3 separate regions of the Homo sapiens genome follow, and regions 2 and 3 are each linked to region 1. Evidence: fine-mapped expression QTL. A gene starts in region 1. Each other region holds a variant in brackets. All regions are shown on one strand. Distances are between the middles of the regions.

Region 1 (8,183 bases):
ATTAGGGCTGGAGACTTCCATGAAGGGGCCAGTTACAGCAGGCTCCAGTGGAAGGGCCCTTTGTCTTTTCCACAATCCTGCCCTTCTCCATCTCTGGCCTTGGCTGACTTGAACTTGGTGTTTTGCACAGCTGATGGAAACCAAACTTAATTACCAGAAGTCTGGGATGCCTCTTATAGGTTTGCAGACCAGTTCTACCTCTGGCCTGTTTCCTCTGGCTTTCCCAGTGTGTGGTTGCTGCTTAGCTGCTGATCTGCAGAAGTGATAGCTGGGAGATAGAGGGAACTGTAAGAATTCACAAAGACAGTCTCCTCTGCTGTTTCTCCCTGTGGATTCACATGCAACCAGCCTCCCTGGTGGCACTGAAAAAGGTACCATGTGAAAATTAGTGGGTATTATGACTTGTAATTAAATGGGTGGCCTGACTCTGTCTATTACAGCCAATTTTTTATTCCTGATGCTGATTATTAGTAGATAATTCTTAATTCCAGGTATCATGCCCTATCTCCCAGCATGCCACTTTGTCTTTTTCATACACAGCCTTTCTTGTGATTTATTCTCCCCGAAGCAAGCAGTGGTAGGAGGTGAGGGCAGAGGGGGAGATAAGCATCACAGAAACAGTTAACATTTACTGATATCTTAGTATATTTTAGGCACTGTTTTGAGCTCTTTACTCTAGCCCTAATGGCAACAGGTACTATTCTTCAGACTTAACAGATGAGGAAACCAAGGCCATCATATGTGAAATAACATGCCCAAGTGTACACAGGTAGCGAGTGGTCCATCTGCATTCAACATTAGTCAGTATGGTCCAGAGCAAGTGCTCTTAAGTCAGAAATAGTTTTTTAAAGGTGAGGAGGAGGTGAGAGGGCCCTCCAAATGTCCACTGTGCAGTTTATAGCCTAGACTCAATGATTGTATATATTCACAAAATCACTTTCCCCAAATCTGAGAAATATTTGGTCCATTTTTCAATTTTAACTTACGAAGATTAGTGATTCTAAAAAAGTTGGGAGTTTGCAAATGAGAAGGCTATGGCTCCCTCTTATTCAAAAACCTGCATGCAAAAATTTGCATATGATTTTGGAAGATTCAAAGTCCCTCAAAAAACCCCATCTCAACCAGGAGCTTCCAGATTAAGAATCCTTGATTTAGAACAATACTAAACTCTATCAATATGAAAAATGCAGTTGACCATAATGGGGACAGAGAAAGGTAAACTTGTGTAGGAAAACAGAAATTTGTGTAGGGCTGAATGTCCTCAGTAAACTACTGACTTTTCTGTGTCATAATAACAGTTCTCCTCTTTCTCTTCCAGCCCTGGGATTATTGTGCAGTTCAACAAGGTAATATCTGATTACTGCTTTGACTTCTCCAGAAAAATACATCCTCCACCTTTGCAGAGCATCTTTTTGAGAGTTTCTTTCCAGGTCCTCAGCTCTAGGAAATTTACAAACCCAAATTAGTGACAACAAACTAACAAATCAACTCTTGAAGGGGATTCCAGAAACAGAAGAAGGGCCTCTGTTTCCAGACCCCTGAACCTAGAGAAGTAAAGACCTGGTACCAGGGACTTCCTTAGCAAATAGCCAAACAGGTTTGTTGGGAAGGAAAAATAATCTTTCTTCCCTACCCATCTTAGATTCCTTGGCTGTGGCCCTGTAAATTAGAATGACAAAAAAAAGAAAAAACAGATTAACAAGAGAAAAACAAACAAAAGTTTTTTATTAACTTGTGCATGGTGCTTACATGTTGAAATACCTAGTGAGGAGTAACTCAAAGAGATGGTTAGAATTTGGGTTCATATTGCATTTTTAAAAAGAACAATAAATTTGCAGAGAAGTGGCAAGACAAACAAAAAGGACTTTGAGCTTCTAGGGGTAGCAAATTATGGGAAGATAAATAAATGGGGGTCCTAATGGGAGATAAGACTAGTTAGTAAGTTTTGGTATGTAGATTCCTCTGGGCTGATAAGGGTCTAGGGTTGTCTCCAATGATTAACTTCTGTCCGTCCTGGTAGAGAGGGGAGGTGGAGACACTATACTTTTATAAATTCAAGTCTGCTTTTAGGAAAATGGGGGGAGAACAGAGACCTATTCTTGTATCTACTTCTTCTTAACTGCTTTCAGCTCAAAATAATCCTTATGCCAAAGGGGCATATTTGGGGGTGGTATAGACTGCTATCCTTCAGGTTCATCACTTAGAGCCCCATTCTGTCAGGGGGATGCAATTCATGTAGGGATGAGGCTGCTTGGTATTGACTCAGAGAGGTGTGTGTGGTGGGGGCTGGGAGGTGGGGAGAGGGAAGATGAAAAGAAACCCCACGTGTCATGGGAAGGACCAGGTGGAGATAGTTGAATCATGGGGACAGTTACCCCCATAAAAGTTTTCATTTTGTTCTCTAGATGTTGGTGGGCCCTGGTGGTTTAGGAGTAAGGTGTGCTGAGCTCGAAGCAAAGTCTTGGGAAGAGAAGTCACCCTGGACTATTGATGAAGGCCTGGAGTAAAGATTAAGAAATGGAAGTGGAAGGGAAAAGATAAGGGGAGAAACCTGAGGAAGGTAGAATCTGTAAAGCTCAGGTGCCGTCAGCTGGAGTTGAAACAGACTCCTGAGAGGCTCTTATGCCTACAGTTATTTGGGAACTAAGTCATCTTCTTCCCACTCCCATCACCAAAGGACCAGGACTGGTTGGCCAGCAACAAGGTGAACCTCCCTTCTTCGAACCTCTGCCCTCTACCTCTTAGGTATATGCTGCCCTCTGGTATTCTGCTCCTGTTTAAGGCTACTCTTGGTGCTTATTTTAACTGATTTCATCTCGATATGGAAGTTGAGTGTAGGAACAAGACTCATACCATGAGATGTTCTTGGGGGCAGTCTCAGGTCAGATAATAGAGATAATGATTAATATTTAGTGTGCACTTAATATGTGGTAGGCTCTGTGCTATGGGCCTTACATGCGTAATCTTATTAAATTCTTCCAGTGATCTACAAAGTAGGTTTGATTATTATTTCCATTTTATAGATGAGAAGACTGAGATTCAGAGAGTTAACTTGCTTAAGGTCACACAGCCAGAAAGTGGTGAATCAACAAAATTAGAACACAGGCCTGCTGAGTTCTTGCTTCCAGTCACTTCACTGCAATAGGCCCCCAGAAGCAGGGCTGGAGTTCAGAAATTCTTTCTAGTAGAGCACCTGTGTCAGGGCTCCTGACCTTCTGATCTGTCCTGAGCTTTACAGATTCTACCTTCCTCAGGTTTCTCCCCTTATCTTTTCCCTTCCACTTCCATTTCTTAATCCTTACTCCAGGCCTTCATCAATAGTCCAGGGTGACTTCTCTTCCCGAGACTTTGCTTTGAGCTCAGCACACCCTACTTGTAAACCACCAGGGCCCGCCAACATCTAGAGAACAAAATTAAAACTTTTATGGGGGTAACTGTCCCCATGATTCAATTATCTCCACCTGGTCCCTCCCATGACACGTGGGGTTTATGGGAACCACAATTCAAGATGAGGTTTGGGTGGGGACACAGCGAAGCCATATCAAATGGTGAAATACAATTCTGCATATGTAGCATCCTAAGAAGCTCTATAGCCTAGTGGCTAAGACTATAGCCTGTGGGCCTAAGCTGCCCGGGTTCAAACCCTGGCTCTGCCCCTCACTAACTGTGTGGCCTTGGATGAGTTATTGTAATCCTCAATGGTTCCGTTTCTCTAATTGTAAAATACAGAGGCTAGGTTTATTGTGAGGAATAATTGAGTTAATACATGTAAGGTACATGACACCTGGCACGGAGGAGTTTATTTTAAAAAGTCACCTATTATGAAACATCCTTCTTCCTCATTTCGAGATGTCACTTGCTATCTTGTACCTAAACTGAGCCCTTTTGGTGGAGGCAGTGAGGGTTCTTGTGTGTTCTTCGCCATCCCTGCCTGGCGTGTGCGCAGGAGCTATTTATGTTGCTGAATTCACCATCGTGGGGATCACAGGAAGAGGAAAACTTTTTCCAGTAGCTCAGGAGCTGCTTATGTCGCTGAATTCACCATGACGGGGATCATAGGAAGAGGAAAACTTTTTCCAGTAGCCTGTAGTTGCAAAAGATAATAAGCTTTCCAACCTGTGATCACCTGGAGCAAACGGAGAGGAAAGGAGATAAACGAGGAGTGTTGCGTGCGGAGTGGAGGGAGGCTCCCTTTCTCCTCCCATCACCAACTCCTCCTTCTCCTCAGGCCAGGCTTTTAATCAGGCTCCCCGCGTGCAGTCAGAGAGGGCAAAGCCAGCTCCCGTCTCAGCCTCCCGTAGGAAGATCTCCCGGCCTCACCTGAGCGCCCCGCAGCCCTGGGTACCTCTGCTCCCGCCCAGGGTCCTATGGCCCCTCCTCCCAGCACCCAACACTGGGACCCCACCTGTACCCAGGCTGGCCTCCCTCCCCCGCAGCTTCCTTTGCAGCCGCCGTCCGCGGGTCTCCAGGCGTGGCCACACCTCCCGGGGCCCCGCAAGGGTTAAGGCAGCAGAGAGGAGAGGTTTGGGCTGACGTCGCTCTGGCTGAAGGTGGTTCCCCTCAGATGAGGATGGGAGAGCCTGGCGAGCTGAAACCCGAGCTCCCGCTCAGCTGGGGCTCGGGGAGGTCCCTGTAAAACCCGCCTGCCCCCGGCCTCCCTGGGTCCCTCCTCTCCCTCCCCAGTAGACGCTCGGGCACCAGCCGCGGCAAGGATGGAGCTGGGTTGCTGGACGCAGTTGGGGCTCACTTTTCTTCAGCTCCTTCTCATCTCGTCCTTGCCAAGAGGTACTGTGAGTAGCGTCCGGGACACCCTAGGAGGACACCCTAGGAGGGAGCATTTTCCTCCTGGGGTCTGCCTGGGAGCAGGACTGGGAGTCTCAGGAGGTGGGCTGTGTGTGTTTGGGGTGAGGGGTTGAGGGGGGGTGGTGCTTTTCCAGTGATAATTTTAGGGACTTGGCTGGTGGTGCTGGAGCTCCTGTGGCCCTCCCTGAGACTGTGACGTGGTTTTGTCATCCCAAATCGTGGGGCTGTACTGTCTCAGGAAAGCGGACCAGCTCCTATTTTATTTGCTCTTTTTATCATTTTAAAAGTACCAAATTGCCTTAGGGAATCAATTCTGAGTTACCCGCTCTGACTTGCAAAAGCGAAGTTTCTCTTGGAAAGGGCTCCCTCAGAGGTGAGCAAGAAAGAAAGAAGAGAGGGAAAGAAAGAAAGGAATAAAGAGCAGGGCTTGCTTGGTGTTCTTCTGGTGAATCTTGCTTCACGAACTCCTACAGCCATACCCCTTCGGAGTAGATCCAAGCACAGGAGATTGACTCACTCAGCATATATAGACACACTTCCTTTCTGATGAGAGTGAGAAAGAAGAAAAAGCCAAGGTTAAAAGTGCAGATTGTTTCTGGGATGCATAGGGTTTGTTTTGAAAGAGCTCTGGCTTCTTTGGTTTTCATATATCATTTTCTAAGCCACAATCCCCAGGTCAAATGGGCTTCTGGGGACAAATGAGGCTGGGACATGATACGGAGATCCAGCTAAGGGCAGAAGCGAGGACATGGCAGATCCTGCTTGCTGGCAGGCGGGGAAGTGGGAACGTCATAGGAACATCTGTCCTTCTATGGCCCAGGGGGTAAAGTGAGACCTCATGAGATGAGGGCAGGCCGAGATGTACAGAAATGACCAAACGGGGCAGCTCTGAATAGGGGCAGGTTATGTACGAGCCTTCGCTGCTTCCCTTCTGTGCTGGTTACCTGTCACCTGAACTCTATCTGAGAGCTGGGTGCTCTGCCGCTGCAAGTAGCTGGCAAGTGCCTGAGAATGAAACAGGCCAGGTCGGGTGGGGAGGATACTAAATGCAATAACCTGTGTAGAAGGGAAACTTAGCCATAGGCACATCCCTTCATGATCAACGAAAAGCTGAGATACACAAACCCCCCTGCCCTTCATTTTGGTCAATACTTTCCATCTACCTAGAGCCTGCCTGCCCAGGTAGGATCTTCCTTAATGATTTACAATAAAGATGGTGAGTGTTTCATTTGAATTTTGCCTCCATGGTGTCTGGAGCAGCCCAAAGACAATAATAAAGGAAGAAGGAGCCCTTCATAAGGGCTGACAATCCATAAACCTAAACACTTGCCTAGGGGTAAGTGGGTGACTTTGCATTAAGGCACCTCCCTACTTCATCTTCGCCTTTGCATGGTGTCGGTGGACCAGCTCCAGAGGACCTGGTTCTTCTCAGAGTGCCAGGGCTCAGTGGATTTGATTCCTCAGGGTTACATCAGCGTTCCCCTGCTTCCTGTTTTATTACATGGCAGGTGAGGCGCTTCAAAGCCATAAAAGTTTAAAAGAAAATAAAAAAACCTGAGCTGGCTCTTTTTCCTAGCCCAGAATCTGAAAAATCCATTTATTTCTGACCCGAGAACCTCTTTTACCTTTGGCTGTGAAAAAGCTTCAGAGAGGATACGCAGTTTGTTGGTAGCTAAACTGCTGCCTGAACCAGAGCGCAGCTTCATGTGTTTAGCAAGGATATTTTAGTTGTTGAATGTTTTACTCACATTTCGAGGGAAGACGGAGGAATAGCGTGGAGAAGGAAAATATTTCCTCAAGGAGTGAAGGAAGTCCACTCCCTGCTGGGATGCTGAATCTGGCCCCAGGCAAGAAAAGCTTGGAAGCGTATTTCCTCTAATTAACTTTTCTAAAAAGAGTATTTGCTGAATTGTAAACATCCACTGGGATGGTACCAGAGAGTGTTGTTTCTCACTGGCATGTGACACATGTTGGGAGGATGAGAATCCAAACATGAGGCCAAGCGATAACCCAACATAAACAGAATGAGGGGAGAAACCCAACTCCACTGACTTCACCAAATTGCGGTAGCTCTGCCAGTGTGATTCTGCCGAAGAGGAAAACCTCATTTAAAATATGGGACTCTTGGGAATGAAAACTTAATCTGGAGAACTTCACAAGTGTTGCTTCCAACAGACATTAACTTGTGGGGAATGAACATAAATGCAACCAGGGAAGATAATTTGAAGTGCAGATATTCAGTGGGCAGGAAAAGCCAGCCGAGAAAGGAAACATGGAAAGAAAGCAAGGGAGAAGGAGTGGCAAGAAAAATGAGATGTGAGATTACACTGGGATATGTTGGCAAATTCCTAGGAGAAAGCTAGGAAAATTGGGCCTTCTTGGCACGGGTGGATTTTTGCGGGGATCATGAAGAGGGTGTTCCCCTAATATACAATCTGAGAGCTCCTGGCATCCCCAACAGGAAAATAATTTAATGATGGGATCATGGAGTTTAGGAGCTGAGAGTGACTTTAGAAATTATTTTAGTATGAGTCCCTCAATTCAGAGGATGAAGAGATTAAACATCAAGCAAACATTTAGTGAACATTTATTAATGTGTCCAGTCTTTGAGCCAAAGGCTTCATATGCATTAATTCTCAGACCACCCTGAAATGGCATTGCTGTTATTATCCGTGTTTTACAGATGAGGTTCAGAGAGGTTCTATGATACACAGAGGTTTAAGGATATACAAGTATGGTTCCCCCAAAAATTGAACATAGAATTACCATTTGATTTAGCAATTCAATTTCTGGGTGTATACACAAAAGAATTGAAAGCAGGGACTTGATTAGATATGTTTACATCAATGTTCATAGCAGCATTATTCCCAATAGCCAAAAGGTGGAAACAACCCGAATGTCCATTGATAAACAAGATACAGTATACACCTACGACGGAATATTATTCAGCCTTAAAAATAAAGGATATTCTGATACGTGCTATAACACAGATGAACCTTAAGACCTTATGCTAAGTGAAAGAAGCCAGACACAAAAAGACAAATGTTCTGTGATGCCACTTATATGAGGTACTTAGAATAGTCAAATTCATGTAGACAGAAAGTAGGGTGGTAATTGCCAGGGCCCAGGAGAAGATGGAATGGGAGTTATTATTTGATGGGTACAGAGTTTCAATGTGGAATAGCAAAAAGTTCTGGAGATAGATGGTGGTGATGGTTGCACAATAGTATGAATGTACTTATGCCACTGAACCATGCACTTAAAAACGATTTGAGGCAGGCGCAGTGGCTCATGCCTATAATCCCAGCACTTTGGGAGGCCAGGGCGGGCAGATCACGAGGTCAGGAGATCGAGGCCATCCTGGCTAACACAGTGAAACC
Region 2 (8,183 bases), 28 kb after region 1:
AGCATTAGGAAAAAGAGCTAATGCATGCCAGGCTTAATACCTGGGTGATGGATTGATAGGTGCAGCAAACCATCATGGCACATGTTTACCTATGTAACAAACCGGCACATGTTGCTCATGTACCCCAGAACTTAAAAATTAATTAATTAATTAATTAAATTTAAAAATGGGCAAAAGATCTGAATAGACATTTCTCAAAAGTAGACATACAAATGGCCAGCAGGTATATGAAAAAAATGCAGAGAAATGCAAATGAAAACCGCCATGAGATATCATCTCAACCCAGTTAAAACGGCTTTTATCAAAAAGACAGGCAATAACATGCTGGTGAAGACATAAAGAGGGACCCTGGTACAGTGTTGGTGGGAATGTATATTAGTGCAGCCATTATGGAAAACTGTATGGAGGTTTCTCAGCAAACTAAAAATAGAACTACCATGTGATCCAGCAATTCCGCTACTGGGAATATATCCAAAAGGAAATATATCAAAGAGACATCTCCACTCTTATGTTTATTGCAGCACTATTCATTATAGACAAGATATGGAATCAACCTAAGTACCCATCGGTGGATGATTGGTGAAAGAAAATGTGGTGCCTATATATAAGGGAATATTATTTATTTATACGAAAGAATGAAATCCTCTTATTTGCAGCTACATGGATAGAACTGAAGGTTATCATGTTAGGTGAAATAAGCAAGCACAGAACCATAAATATTGCGTGTTCTTACTCATATGTGGGAGCAGTGATCCTGATCCTGTGTAGGCCTAGGCTAATATGTATGTTTGTGTCTTAGTTTTCAAGAAATAAGTTTAAAAAGTAAAAAAAAAATAATAATAATTAAATTAAAAACAGGAAAAAACATATAGTATAAAAACATAAAGAAAATATTTTTGTACAACTGTACTTGTATTTGTGTTTTGAGCTGTTGTAAAAGACTCAAAAAGTGAACACTAAAAAGTTTATTGGCTGGGTGCAGTGGCTCACACCTGTAATCTCAACACTTTGGGAGGCCAAAGCAGGTGAATTACTTGAGCCCGGGAGTTCAAAACCAGCCTGGGCCACATGATGAAACCCTGTCTCTACAAAAATAATACAAAAATTAGCTGGGCCTGGTGGCACATGCCTGCAGTTCCAGCTACTTGGGAGGCTGAAGTGGGAGGATCACTTGAGTTTGGGAAACAGAGGTTGCATTGAGCCGAGATTGTGCCACTGCACTCCAGCCTGGGTGACAGAGTGAGACCCTGTCTCAAAAAAAAAAAAAAAGAAAAAAAAAGGTTATAAAATTAAAAAGTTACAGAAAACTAAGGTTAATTTATTACTGAAGCAAATATTTTTGATAAATTGAGTGTGGGCTAAGTGTATGGTGTTTATAAAGTCTACAGTAGTGTACAGTGATGTCCTAGGCCTTCACATTCACTCACCACTCACTGACTCACCCAGAGCAATTTCCAGTCCTGCAAGCTCTGTTCATGGTAAGTGCCTTATATAGCTGTTCCATTTTTTAAATCTTTTATACCATATTTTTTCTGTTTAGATATGTTTAGATACACCAGTACTTACTGTTGTATTACAATTGCCTATAGTATTCAGTACAGTAACATGCTGTACAGGTTTGTAGCCTGTGTGTAGGTGTGTAGTAGGCTATGCCACTTAGATTTGTGTAAATACACTCTGATGTTCACACAACGATGAAATTGCTTAATGACACATTTCACAGAACGTATGCCTGTCATTAAGTGATGCATAGCTGTAGATGGATTTCTTTCTGTAATTTTATTTAAACCTCCCTAACCCGACGAGGTCGGTAGATTTGGTGCTAATGCCCCTTCATGACCACTCATTCATTCTTATAGCATTCTAAGTTTTCCCTGTTGTGGTTTATGATTATGTATTTGTGGGGTCGTTTGACCAATGTCTTCTCTATTGAACTGTGAGCACCATCAGGCTAGTGATGATGTCTATTTTTTTTCTATTGTATTCCAGCGCCCCATCTCTTGCCTAGGATGTAGTCAACACTCAATAAATACTTGAAAAACAAAAGAATGAGTTCATCGATTCACCCTTGCTCTTGGCATTGTGCTCAGTGGAGAAAATGAGGAACAGAGTGATTCAAAGACTTGCTGTGGGCTAACCTTTCTTTCAAGAAGTCCCAGTATGTTAGTCCCCTACTGATACTGTAACAAATTACCACAACTTTAGGGCTTTAAAACAGCACACATGTATTACCTTCCAGCCGTGAAGGTCAGAAGTCTAAAATGAATCTTACAAGACTAAAATCAAAGGGTTGGCAGGGCTGCATTCCTTCTGGATGCTCCACAGGAGAAGCTGTTTATTTGCCTTTTCAGACTTCTAGAGGTTGCCTGCCTGCCTCCTTGGGTTGTGGTTCTACAGTCCATCTTCAAAGTACATCACTCCAACCTCCATTTCTGTCGGCACACCTCCTTTCTGACTCTGACCATCCTGCCTCCCTCTTACGGGGGGCCTTGTGATTACATTGGTTCCACCTGGATATTACAGCATATGCCTCTCATCTCAAAATTCTTAAACTAGTCACATCTGTAAAATCCCTTCTGCCAGGATTCCCTGGGGTCATTCCCTTAGACTGAGATGGATCTTACCTATAAAGTAAATAATAATGAAGTAAAGAGGGCAGAGGTGGGCTTGCTCATTGGAGTAAAGAGAAATGGATCTTATCTATAGAGTAAACAGTAATGGAGTAAAGAGGGCTGAGGTGGGCTTGCTCACTGGAGTAAAGAGAAATACCAATAAAGCTATTTTAGGGAATTAATTCCTGGGTAAAAGGGAGACCCCTGGCATGTGACAGGCCGGAGGTGAACGAATCTGCTGCTTAGGGGGAAACAGGGAGTGGAACAAACCTTAAATGGCCTTCCATGTTGATGTACAGAATCTTATAAAAGTTGCAAATTATTTATCCTGTTGGTGTCCTCCCTTGAGTTATTAGTATTTACAAAATTATTAGAAAACCTAGAAGGATGTAGTGCTTGCCGCAGGGTGAATAGAGGGAGGGGGTGAGGCATGAGCCACACCCCATGGGCATATTCGCTGTTCAGAGAGTGGAACGAACATACATCTGTACAGGGTGGGGGCTGGAGTCCAGAAATATGAACCCAAGGCAGGCCACCTGGACCCCCATGTCTAGATACCTCGCTGTGGGAGGAAAGGCACCCAGCTCTGGTATCAACAAGTTAGAGGCAAAGCTGGCTCTCCTGGCTCATGGCTCCAAGCTGAACCCACTGGATGGAAATATTTGACTAGTGAAGGAAGGGTAGCTCTTAAGTTCAGGCCGAATTCATTCAACAGATATTTATTCAGCACCTCTGTGTGCCAGCCAGCCCTGCCCTGGCAGTGGTGAACAGGTTTGATGTGGCTCCTGTTAGCTTATGGGCATGTAAGGGAGGCAGACAGTCAGCAGGTAAATGAGAACAGAAAACGATTCTCAACTGTGGTAAGGACCAGGAAAGGAAACACATAGGATAGTGAGACAGAAATAACCACGGATGGGATCGAAGGGGTGTGCATTTTGGAGGGGAAGGCCAGGGAGGACCTCTCTGAACAGGCGTCATTTACGTGAAGGCCTGAGACGGAGGCCTTGGGAGAAGCAAATGTGGAGTCCCAAGGTGGGCCAGAGCTTGGTGGTTTTGAGAAATGGAGAGAAGGTGGGAAACAGTGGCCAGGAAAAGGTGGACGGAGTCGGGTGAGCATAGGCCTCAAAGGCCTTGTGGGCTGGGGCAGAGAATTTGAGGGTTACTGCAAAAGCGATGGGAAGCAAGGTGACCATTTTAAGCAAGAAATTGATCTGACATACGTAAAAAACCATATCCTTGAGAAATATGAGCATTCTCTATTGTTTTTCTTTTTTTCTTTCTAAGCTATTAGTTTCTGAATGTTTAGTACATACTGGGTGCTGTGCTAAGCTGTTTATATGCATTATTTTGTCTAGTATTTTCAACAGGCCTAAATTGGAGAAAATGTACACTCATTTTACTGGATACTAAACTGAGACTGAGAGAGTAACGTAGCTTTGCCAAGGCAAGTAGCAGAGGGAGATTCCAAATGCAGGTCTGTTGACTCCCATGTTTGAGCCTCTAACCAATTTGTTCTCTCTCACTCTCCCTCCTCGACTTTTCACAATTAAAAAATTGTGGTAATATATATGTAGATAACATAAAATGTGCCCTTTTCTGGTATCACAAATACCAAAATTTGAATAATTTGAATAATGGGCTATACCACATGGATTTACAAAACTACAGCATATTATTAATAACACACATTCCACTAGGAAAACTTGGCACAGGTAGGAGCATGTGATGTAAACAAGAACTTGCACAGGATTCATAGTCTTTGCTACTTTCAAGTAAGCTTGGTTTTTGTCCTGTGCATATGGCCTGTGTTTATTTCCATCCTGTGGCCTTTGGGTATGCTATCCTTTCTAACTGGATGGCTTCCCTTCATTCTCTCAGCCTTTGAAAATATGATTTTTTTCTATGTTAAAAAGAAGCTATATATATAAAAAAAGAAAGCTGTATTGAGTTATAATTTTTAGATATTTTACTTGCAATGAGAAAGAAGAGAAGTTGAATGTTATAATGTAGTACAGTAATAAATATCAGTACAGTGACATGTTATAGTTGATCAATCACTATTTATTGAAAATTCAGAGTGGTCAACATGGTCTTAGGGTTTATGGACACACAAAAACATTTTACCTATAGGAAGATATAAATGTACAATGAAGGGAGAGCTAAGGGGTAATTAAAGCCCAGTGCAGATAATCAGAGGAGGAGTGGAAGGATAGAGAAGGCTAAGAAAATGTGCCATTTTAGCCATTTTAAGTGTATAATTCTGTGGCGTTAATTAGATTCCTGTGATTGTGCAACCATCACCTGTATCTAGTTCACCACCCCAAACAGAAACTCTGTAACCAT[C/T]AAGCAACACCTCTCCATTCAGCTTTCCCCCAGCTCCTGGTAACCTTTAATCTACTTTCTGTCTCTATGAATTTGCCTATTGTAGATATTGCATTTAAGTAGAATCAGACAATATTTGTCCTTTTGTGTTTGGCTTCTTTTGCTTGGCATGATTTCAAGGTTCATTTACATTGTAGCACCTAGCAGCTCCTCATTTCTTTTCATGGCTGAATAATATTCCATTGTATGCACGTACCTCATTTTTTATTTTTTATATTATTTGTTATTATTACTATTATTTTCAGACAAGAGTCTTGGTCTGTTTCCCAGGCTGGTGTCCAATGACACAATCTTGGCTCACTGCAACCTCTGCCCCTGGGTTCAAGCGATTCTCGTGCCTCAGCCTCCTAAGTAGCTGGGATTACAGGTGTGCACCACTGCTCCCGCCTAATTTTTTGTATCTTTAGTTGAGATGAGGTTTCACCATGTTGGCTAGGCTGGTCTCAAACTCCTGGCCTCAAGTGATCTGCCTGCCTCAGCCTCCCAAAGTGTTGGGATTACAGGTGTGAGCCACTGCGTTCAGCCCATGTACCTCATTTTGTTTATCCATTTGTCTCTTGATGGAAAATTGAGTTGTTTCCACCTTTTGGCTATTGTGAATGAACATTGGCATACAAGTATCTCTGAGTCTCTGTTTTCAATTTTTTAGATCTATACCTAGAAGTGTAATTGCTGGGCAATTCTGTTTAGCTTTAAGAGGAACTGCCAAACTGTTTTCCATAGGGGCTGCACCATTTCACATTTCTATCAGCAATATACAAGGGTTCCAATTTCTCTACTTCTCTGCCAACACTTGTTTTCCATTTTTCCCTTGGTTTGGATCATAGCCACCCTAGTAAGTGGTAGCTCATTGTGATTTTGATTTGCATTTCCCAAATGACTTGTGATGTTAAACATCTTTTTGTGTGCTTGTTGGCCGTTTATATAGCTTCTTTGGAGAAATGTCTATTCAAGTCATTTGCTCATTTAAAAAACTATGTTGTCTTTTTTATGGTTGAGTTGTATGAGTTTTAGAAATATGTCCTGGATATCAAGCCTTTATCAGAAATATTTTCTGATATTTTCTCCCATTTTGTGGGTGGTCTTTTCACTTATTTGATAATGTCCTTTGCTGCACAAACATTTTTAATTTTGATAAAGTCTAATTCATTTTTATTTTGTTGCTCCTGCTTTTGGTGTCATGTCTAAGAATCCATAGCCAAATCCAAGATCATGGATGGAGATTTACTCCTATGTTTCCTTCTGCTGTTCCTCACTTTTAACCATTAAATTCTCATCCAGATTTTAGAAGTCATTCACTTTGTCAGTAAAACATCAGAGACATGGGAAGCGCAGCTAAGTAAGTCATGGTGGTCACCCTGAAGGGGCTCAGACAGTAGTGGTGGAAAGAAATCTCAGTGGCGATTATGCTATGATGATGTAGCCATTCATTCCCAAACACCAATGTAAGGATCTTTTCTGGCCCACTAATTTGTGGAAAAATGATTTAAAAAGTCAAATTTTCATGAAACTAAATTTATTCCATTTAAATAACTGTCCCTCATTGTGCGAGTGTCTGCCTTCTATGATATTAGCATGTTCTTATGACCTGAGGCTAAGATAGATGATGATAGTTTATTTAAATGGCTCTACTTGGAAAATTGAGAGTGATCAACCCTGTGTCACACTTCCTAATTTGGGGAGGAAACTATGAAATTCAAGGGTTTAGAAGCCACTGCAGGTGCTAGAATTCATTTATGCGGGCCTACGAAGCATGCTGGTGATCCCTGCCTGGAGTTTCTTGGGAAGGTTTTGTGGGGATCTTGTCCGGATTCACTTCCTCAAATATCCAATTCATTTCAGCTGTAATTGTCATCTTTGTGCAAAATTTTTAGAAATAGAGAGTGGGGAAAAAGAAGAGGAAATCAAAACTAGAAGGTCTGTTTCTTAGCCTGACTTCTTCTGGGCAGCCTCTGACTGATTCCTCTTATAGGTTTTGCCAGATGGTTTTTCTCTTTACTGAAGGTATATATAAAAAAAGAAAATGAGAAGGAAAGAATCCTGCCCAGAAAGGGATTTTTTTTTTTTTTCTTATGAGAAAGAACACTCAGTTGCACTTGGCGCCTGAATGAAGTTGGGCTAATGAGTTCACCATTGTAAAACAGTGAAATTCTCCCAAACATACTAATTAAGGTATTTTTTGTCTTTTCTATTGGTTTTCGCTTTGAAGGTACTATGAAAATGGCACGCTGAAAAACTGAGGGGCCAAGTTTGGAAGAAATGACATAGTCTCTACTTGGCAATTGGCCTTGCACTTGAATGACCTGGTGTGGAGACTGGTCTCCAAATTTTCTGATGGCCACATGCCTGGGCTGCAGTATGTAGTCATGCAGTTTAATGGCTCGCTATGGATCTGTGCAGTGCACAACCTATGTAGTCGTAAACAGTGGCCTGATGTATTCTAACAAAAATATAAATAAGCATAGACACCTAAGAGATGTGTGCTGGTTTATAAATTATATACAGGTTCTATTGTCAATCCACCTAGATTATATATTGATGAAACTTGATTTCTTTTTTTAAAGATAAAAATAAAAATGAATAGCAGTTATAACAAACTTCATCTATGCTCCCATGCGTGGTTTTAAATATTCCTTGGGGTAGGTCTCCCTACTTTGGAGACATTGGCCTGGGAAGAATTCACATGGGTCTTCTTTCTCATTCGGGCAGGGCAATGCATTTATAGGGCAAGGTTGCCTCTTAGCAGTAGAGTACTTAAGAGTCTTACCACTCCCTGGGCCGGGTGCGGTGGCTCACGCCTGGAATCCCAGCACTTTGGGAGGCGGAGGCGGGTGGATCACGAGGTGAGGAAATCGAGACCATCCTGGCTAACACGGTGAAACCCGGTCTCTACTAAAAATACAAAAAATTAGCCTGGCGTAGTGGTGGGCGCCTGTAGTCCCAGCTACTCTGGAGGCTGCGGCAGGAGAATGGCGTGAACCCGGGAGGCAGAGCTTACAGTGAGCCGAGATCGCGCCACTGCACTCCAGCCTGGGCGACAGAGCAAGACTCCGTCTCAAAACAAACAAACAAACAAACAAAGAGTCTTACCACTCCCTGCCAGGACCTAGCCTCACCTGCTGGTTTTCCATTTCAGAGTACACAGTCATTAATGAAGCCTGCCCTGGAGCAGAGTGGAATATCATGTGT
Region 3 (8,183 bases), 63 kb before region 1:
CTGTCCCCCCGGTTCAAGCGATTTTCCTGCCTCAGGCTCCTGAGTAGCTGGGATTACAGGCATGCATCACCATGCCCAGCTAATTTTTGTATTTTTAGTAGAAATGGGGTTTCACCATGTTGGTCAGGCTGGTCTCAAACTCCTGACCTCATGATCCACCTGCCTTGGCCTCCCAAAGTGCTGGGATTACAGGCGTGAGCCACCGTGCCTGGCCAGCAATGGTTTTTTAAGTGTTATACTCTCTGTGGCTCCCTTTCTTAGGTTAGATGGCCTGAAGCTGGTATAGGTTCTTCCTTCTGTTCCTGCCTCTTTCATGTGGTGAGTCTGCCAAGGCAAGCTCTGCCCTCAAGAGGAAAGGCTTCCAGTTGTTTAGCTGCTGTGGCCATGAAAAGGTGGCTAAGTATAACTCAGTATGGAATAGAAAACTCATTCAGATCACAGGGACAGTTTCCATTCACCAGACCAGGTAGCCAGTATTACCACTATTATTAGGACCTCTGATTCCTTTGTATACTTCTCAATTGCTTCAGAACGTGGAAGACAGAAAGGCACGATTAAGTAATACCTCAAGAACTTAGCAAAAACCACCTGAAGGATACAGAGAAATAACCAGTGACAAGAAGGGAAAAGTTCAGGAAGGACAAAACTGGGACGTTATTCTAAAAGTGAAGGTACACATTCTACCAATATAAATGATGAAATAGGATGCACAAGGAAAATGGTCTTTGCCATCCTTATGGACTAACTGTAATATGTCCAATAATTAGGATGTTTAAAATATGTTGACAAAATTCTGGAAAGCATTGGCTGGTTTTGCATTTACATTCTGGTGAAGTCATTTTCTCCCTGTAACTGATATTTGGACAGTTCTCCTGAGACAGCAATGGGGCATAATATAAACTGTCATATAATCATTTAGACATTTCAATTCTCTCTATGTCTTCTTTTTGTCGACAACCTAAAGGAATATATATTGCACATACACATAAACAGACGTGTTTTCACTATTGTTGTGGATGCAATTGATAATGGAAACAAGAAATGAAGGGTCTCTGAAGAAGAGTGAGATTTTTTCAGTTCAGTCCAGTTAGTGAAGTCCAGTTCAGTTCTGAACTTAATCCAGAAGTTGTTATTTTTCCGCAAAAATGACAGTGAAAAATCAGAGGGTTACATGGGAGCTCTCATTTTGCAGCTGCAGAAGCAACAGCAGCAGCATGGAGAGAAGGCATTGGTGTGTGGCCACACGCAGCTTTGGGGTAAGAGCAGGCAATAAGGAAGCAGTGCATTATAATGGAAGGAGCATGGGCTTTGGTTAAAGATAGACCCATGTTTTTGACTCCTGCCTTTGCAAATTACTCACTTTCTAACCTTTCCTGTTTTCATTTCTTCTGTAAAATGGGGCTGATTGCCCTCATCTCATGACTATTGTAAGGATTAAATAAGATATATTTCAAATGTCTACTACTGTGCCTTGCACATTGTAGGCACACAAGAGTGATGACCATACAGAAATGAAATTTGCAGAATTCGTGGGGGGAATTGTGATTCAAGTCCTTGCATGGGTCTGAGCAGTAGCTAGTAAGAACAGAAGTAGCTAGGGTGGTAGAGATAGATAGATAGATAGATAGATAGATAGATAGATAGATAGATAGATAGATTGTAGAAAGCTCCATGTTTTTAGGGATGCATTTTTAGCAAGTACATTATAAGAGATAGTATTAGAACTAACTTTTCACTTTCAGATAATTCTCAAGAAATAATAGGTCTGGTTGGAAAAGCCATGGACTAGTGTGACAGGTCTAAGGGGATAAAAGAGTAATATAAGATGACAACAGAATAGGCAGAACCGGACCACACTTGGACACAGAGAGCTCTCCAAGCTGATTTTGAGCTGTGTCATACCTATGGCAGAGGCAGTATTGGTTCCCATGGGCTACCCTCCAATCTTTCCTCTTGTCGACTTGGCAAGCCTGGGACCTCTTCTGAAAACCTCAGCTCTAACAACTCCTAAAGTGTCTCAGTGTAACAGGTAAGGAAACTGACAAAAGCAGGGACAAGGGCACACTCTCCCTGTTGAGCCCCTCAGTTGGTTTAGCAACCAGGGAGAGGCCACTCCCTGGCTTAGCTCTTTCATCCATAAGCTAGGATCCCTGGTGCCTCTCCCAGTTCTTTCTGCAACCTGCTATAGCATCAGGAGGAGGGAGGGACTCAAGCCATCTTTCTGCAACTCAATGCTCATATTTCTGGCTTGTTATCACAGTGATGTATCCTTAGGGACAGTGAGTCACATCCTAGAAGTAGCTGGCATCCTTGGAGCCATCCCTGACTTTCTCTCTCCCAGCAGGGTGGGAGAAGAGCACCTCTCCTTCCAAGGCATGGAGGCAAGAAAGTCTTCCCCTTCTCAATCCTCTGTTATGGCTAAGCTTTACACACTAGAGTTCAGGTGTGCAAAACCAGAAAGGAGCTTCTTTTGTTTTAGTAATGGATTGTCTTCTGCTCTGAAGCCCCCATAGAAGTAGGGGGAAAAACACAAATAAAAATAGACATGCCAATAAAAGAGAACCCAGTCTCTTCCAGTTCAAAATAGTTCCCTTTGGGCAAATATTCTGAAGTGGTTCCTACCAAGTCTGTTTCTCTCTTTTCAAGAAGTTGCTTTCTACTCTTTTTCAAGATGGCACCTGAAGTGGAGGGAAGCAGAGCCTTAAATATCCTCACAGCAGAGAGGAGGAGTTCTGCACCTGTGTGTGGTCCTCTGGGCTGCTGTTCTCTGGGCCCCAGCTTCTGGCCTTAATAGCCTTCCTTGCCTCAATGTGAAGCCTGGTGGACCTGGTGAATGTTCTCTCAGCCCATGGAATACAACTTCAGCCATCTTCTGCTGCTGACTCCAGCCACCTGAGATTTTGCTGGTGATACTGGTCCTTTGAGACATGGTCACAAGCTCCTTGAGACCCCCAGACCTGGCCAGACCTCCCTGTGGCTTCTGCTACAGGGTTTCCCCATCTTGTGTCTCAGTGAGCACTTGCAGGCAGGCTTCTCAATTCTTAATTCTTCTTTACTTTCGCCATCCCTTTTATTGGTCCCTGAGAACTTTCCAGATCTTCTTTGTGCTCTGCTGAAGCCAAGAGAGAGCTAGGGTGGGCTAGAATGAGGCTATCTCAGGCCCTGGCTATACAGGCACCCACTTCTGCCCATGCTGCCCATTAGTACCCAAACCTGATGTACACGGCACCCTTTGGAAATGCAGACTTTTCCCACAGGCTGTGGCTCTCCCAGGCTGTACCTGGGGAAGCAGAGCACCAGCCATGGTCTTGCTAGGTTTCTCCAAAGTTTCCTTAAGTTCCTAGCGCATGCGCACACCCAGCCCAGCC[A/T]GGGGTTTTGATTTGGTTGTGGGAGGGAATTCAGGACACTGTCACACTTGCCCATCCTCTCTTCAGCCCTCTTCTCAGCTCCTCCCTCCACGGAAAGCACCTTCTATCTTCCCCTTCTCTCCAGCAAGAACTGTCCTCATATCCTCCTTCTTCCTTGTTCTTTACCCTTTGCCTTCCCTTTCCCAGGTCCAAAATGACAAAAGGATTATAGGAGCAGAAACAAGATTTCCAACCAAGGAAAAATATGGAAAAGAAAGGGACAGGCACCTCAAGCTGTGTGTCCCAAGCCTTGGTGAAGGCCAACAGAACAGGGAGTGGCTCACCTCCCATTGAGATGTTATGAAACTAGGAGGACCCTCAGGAATACTATAGTCTAGGAGGAGGTTCAGAGAAGTTAAGTGGCTTGCTCAGGATTGGTGACTTGCCCAACTAATTACCCCTACTAATTAGTTGAATGGGGTCCAGTGTTCATTCCATTTCACCACACTCCCTCCATATTGTCAGTTAATATCAATGCTAAAACATCACAAATAAATATAAGGAGGGAATTGAGACAATAATAACCAGAGGCACGCTGTTGTGGACGAGGAGGAATGTATTAGTCAGAGTTCTCCAGCTCTTCAGAAAAACAAAACCAACAGGATGGATGTGTGCTATATATGTAAATATATGGAGACAGAGAGAGGGGGAGAGATTTTAAGGAATTGGCTCACATGATTGTGGAAACTTGGTGAGTCCAAAATTAGATGGGAGACGTGAGGAGGCCGGCAGGTTGCAGACTCAGAGAAGAGATGCAGTTTGAGTTGAAAGACAGTCTGCTAGCAGAATTCCTTTCTGCTTGGGGAGAAGAGGCCAGTCTTTGTTCTATTAAGGCCTTCCATTGTTTGGATAAGGCCCACCCACATTATGGAGGGTAATCTGCTTTACTCAAAATCTATCTCATCCAAAAAACATCTTTGCAGAAACATCCAGAATAATGTACCAAATATCTGGGCACTGTGGCCCAGATAAGTAGACACGTAAAATTAGCCATCACAAGGGAGTTGTGGGTCTCATTGTGAACTGGAAAGATGTTGCCGAAAAGGATCCACTATCTTATCTCAGTGGGTGGAGTTTCCAGAGAGTTAGAGATTACATCTGGATTTTTGTTGTTGCTGTTGTTGTTTTTGAGACAGGGTCTTGCTCTGTCACCCATGCTAAAGTGCAATGGTGCAATCATGGCTCACTGCAGCCTTGACCTCCTGTGCTCAGGTGATCCTCCCACCTCAGTCTCCTGAGTAGCTGGGACTACAGTCGTGCACCACCACGCCTGACTAATTTCTGTATTTTTCACAGAGACAGGGGTTTCACCATGATAACTAGGCTGGTCTCAAATTCCTGGGCTCAAGTGATCTGTCTGCTTTGGCCTCCCAAAGTGCTGGCATTACAGGTGTGAGCCAGCATGCCCAGCCTAGATTTTGGGTTTAAGTGGGTGACCTGGTCCCCGGACACCACATCAAGAAAGGAGGGAAGATAAACAATGTTGAGGAAGGGAACAGGGAAGAGATGTTTCCCCATCTGCTTTGCTTAGGTCATGTTTGTAAGTAACAAAAACCGGTTCAACATGGAGAAACCTTAAATACATATTACTAAGTGACAGAAGCCCACCTGTAAAGACTGCATACTGTGTGATTCATGTTCTGGGAAAGGGGAAACTATGAAGACAGTAAAAAGATTAGTGGCTGCCAGGGGTTGAGGGGGAGGGAGGAGTGAAAAGACAGAGTACAGAGGATTTTTAGGGCAGTGAAACGAGTAGAGCTGATACTATGCATTGTACCTATGTCCAAACCCATAGAACATATACCACCAAATGTAAATTGTAATGTAAACTATGAACTCTGGTGATAAGGATGAGTTCATGTAGGCTTATCAATGGTAACAAATGGAAAACTCCAGTGGGGGATGTTGATAGTGGGGGAGGCTGTGCATTTGTGGAGGCAGAAGGAATTTCTATATCTTCCTGTCAATTTTGCTTTGAACCTTAAACTGCTCTAAAAAATTTAAGCCTTAATGAAAGAACAAACAAATCAGTTAAAGCTCACTTTTTCTTGCAGGGGAGTTTATTATAAAGACACAGGAATGTTTTTTTGGAAGCCAACAACAGGAACAAAATGGGGCTTGGAGAAGCACCAAGATCAGGGATCAGGGCACACACAAGCCATACTCAATCTGGGTCTCTTGCCTCTGATCTCTTCTTCCATTCTTCTTTTTTCCTGGAGCCTTGATTTCTCTGCTTCTCAATTTGCATGGTGGCTGGAACATGTCCATTGTACAGGTCTGGTTATCCGAAGTCATATTCTCTTTTTCTTGATTCCATTTCCAGTTCCTGGGAGAACTTTGTTCAATCTAACTTGAGTGAATTGGCAACATCTGGGCCAATCAATCATGGCAGAAGATTGAGGCAATATTTTACAAAATAACTGCCAAAGGCTCACTGCTGTGATGAGGAGGGAGTTAAGAGTTTCTACTTGAACTGGGTGGGCATTGCCAAAAATGATCCACTCCTTTATCTCAGTGGGTGGGGATTCCATGGCATTAAAGTTCATATCCATGAGAACTGGCATGGGGCCGCCTACCTCTCTGACCCTCTACCCATCCTCCCTTTGGTGGATGCCAGCCTCTGTGACATTTCTCAGTAGCTGCAAGTAGCAAAGAGAACCTGTGGGAAATGCTAGCCTTGCCTCCTGCCTTCCGTTGAGGGCAGATTGGGACTTGTAGCTGCTATCAGCTGCAAGGAACTGAGGGTCATGCCATTGCATTGCCTGAAACTGGAGATCATTCACAATTCAGTTCATGGTCCAAGAAACAAAAATAATATTTAATGAGCAAAATCTTCTTTGTCTAATTATGGTAAATGTCAAGGTTGAATCCAAGTGCTTTGCTTAAGGTCAAATGCTCAGTGCTATCGAAAAGCATTTAAACCAAAGCTGATGGGCTATTAAAGCCCAGGCTAGTTAAAATAAGGCACAGTTCTTTAGTGATTTATTTCCTCCTATTGGAAGCAGTAATGTTGAAGTTGGAACAGTCCACAGCAGCTTGTGCTTTGCTCTTCTCCGCTGCTCTCTATAGACAGGCGAGGGATTCTCTGATGAAATCAATGCTCCAAGTCTCCTAAAGAGTTACTTTCAAGGACCAGGAATTTCATTTCCATTTGGTCAGTTATTTTAAGGTATTGGCCTCTTTCTGATTTAATTGGTCTGAGGTGAGACCTGGGCATTGGTATTTTTTTGGAGGCTCCCAAGTGAAGTGTTTCTAATATGTACTGGGATTGAGAACAACTGAGCTAAATGCTTGATTTAGTTAATTAAAATAAAATGCTGAAAGCTGATGCCTTTGGGTCCTGAACTCTTCTCCATATTGCTCTGCCCTTACTCATAGTTTTCATTCAAACCAAATATATATTCTTCTCTCCTGCCTCTTATTTTTGGAACCCAGAGCTGTCTCCCAGGAGGTGGCTTGCATTGTTAAGCTCCAGAAAGGGCAAAGTAACAGTTCCATACTCCCTTTGCATTTGGTAGTGAATAGGATGGAAACTATCCCCCAAATATCTGTTAGCCCCATGTCAAATGGATTGGTGAAGACCAGTTTTGAAGGTTCAAGAGAGAGATGAGAATTCACACTACGGGACAGGCCACTTCAGAAAGTCTGAAAAGAATGGGACAGCAAAGCTTTCCTGAGCAATGAAGAAATCTTTCTCCCATTATTTATGCACACTGCTTCACTGTTCCTTCTTTCTTTCTTGTCATACAATAGAAATAATGATCTTGGTACCAGACCCTGTGTTGTGCGAGGACAATTAATCACCCACCTAGTCATTTATTTCCTCATACTCTTCCCCACCAGGACCATTATCCTGTAGGTAAACAGAGGTGCCAGTAAATCACGGACAGAACACAGGTCAGTGGGAGAATGGTTGATTAAGCGTCTCTATAACTTAAAGTTATGTAGTACCTCTCATCCCAAAGGATCTCCAAGCACCAGATAGACTGATGTACGCACTGCTGCAGAACCCCTCTATTTGTCACTTTCTACACCTTTGCGTTAGGGGGCTGGAATGTTTATTGCCCTTTTCAGGCAGTTACCCTAGAAACTGCAGTCATGGGTAAGACAAGAGGAAAAGGAAGGAACTTTTCACTTTCCTGTCCTTTCAAGCAACAGAAATCAACTAGCAATCAGAGAGTAACCTACCCATCCTCTTGGGCAAAATTTCTTTGGTTCATGAAATGCTGCAAATATTACACAATTCCATGTTTCTTCTTTTTCTAAAGAGGGCAGCAACTGAGTAGGCATTGAGGTTGAGTGGTGAGTGTGGACAAGATCTAAAACAAGTATTTCCAGGGTAAAAATATTTAGGGTCTACTAGAATCATAGTCTAGGGGGAAATCACTGTTTGAAAATCTTCATGTTAACTCTGCCCCTTAATCTTTAGTAATAAATGGAGCCTTTTGAAAGAAAAAAGCAATTTCCACTTTTCCTCCCAGTGTTTACTTAAATTGTTTAATTATAATGCTACTTTCAAATTTATCCTTATGGCTCTGATATATATATAAAACCAAAAACAAGTTAAATTATATAATTCAATACAAGTTAAATTCAAACAAAACTACAAAGCCAATTTAACAACCTTAATTTAATGGGAAGGATGATGTTGTTTTGCTGAAACCAAATTACCTTTCAAATGAAAACATGATATTGACTGCTGCCTCATTAATTCTTTTAAATTTGGCATGTCTATGCTACTGGGTGCCATGTGATGACCCATTTTTCCACAATTTC

Direction of the effects. Alleles are on the strand shown, and positions count from the first base shown. SD is a standard deviation of normalised expression in the study named. Not every link is listed here.
As copies of T replace A in region 3, the expression in fibroblasts of the gene that starts at base 4,682 in region 1 goes up (small effect, 0.37 SD a copy in GTEx).

The links.
Region 2: its variant is fine-mapped to the expression of PAMR1 in nasal epithelium (TOPMed, PIP 0.96).
Region 3: its variant is fine-mapped to the expression of PAMR1 in fibroblasts (GTEx, PIP 0.97).

Annotation. Positions count from the first base shown.
Region 1 is chr11:35,522,115-35,530,297 of GRCh38, reverse strand. PAMR1 (peptidase domain containing associated with muscle regeneration 1) reads left to right here and starts at 4,682. Exons shown (of 11, transcript NM_001001991.3): 1 at 4,682-4,785. The coding sequence starts at 4,713.
Region 2 is chr11:35,494,220-35,502,402 of GRCh38, reverse strand. PAMR1 (peptidase domain containing associated with muscle regeneration 1) reads left to right here. Exons shown (of 11, transcript NM_001001991.3): 2 at 8,131-8,183. Among named protein-coding and RNA genes, the nearest start is that of PAMR1, 27 kb to the left of the region's middle. The variant C/T (reference allele first, on the strand shown) is at 4,956.
Region 3 is chr11:35,584,659-35,592,841 of GRCh38, reverse strand. No RefSeq gene overlaps it. Among named protein-coding and RNA genes, the nearest start is that of FJX1, 30 kb to the left of the region's middle. The variant A/T (reference allele first, on the strand shown) is at 3,369.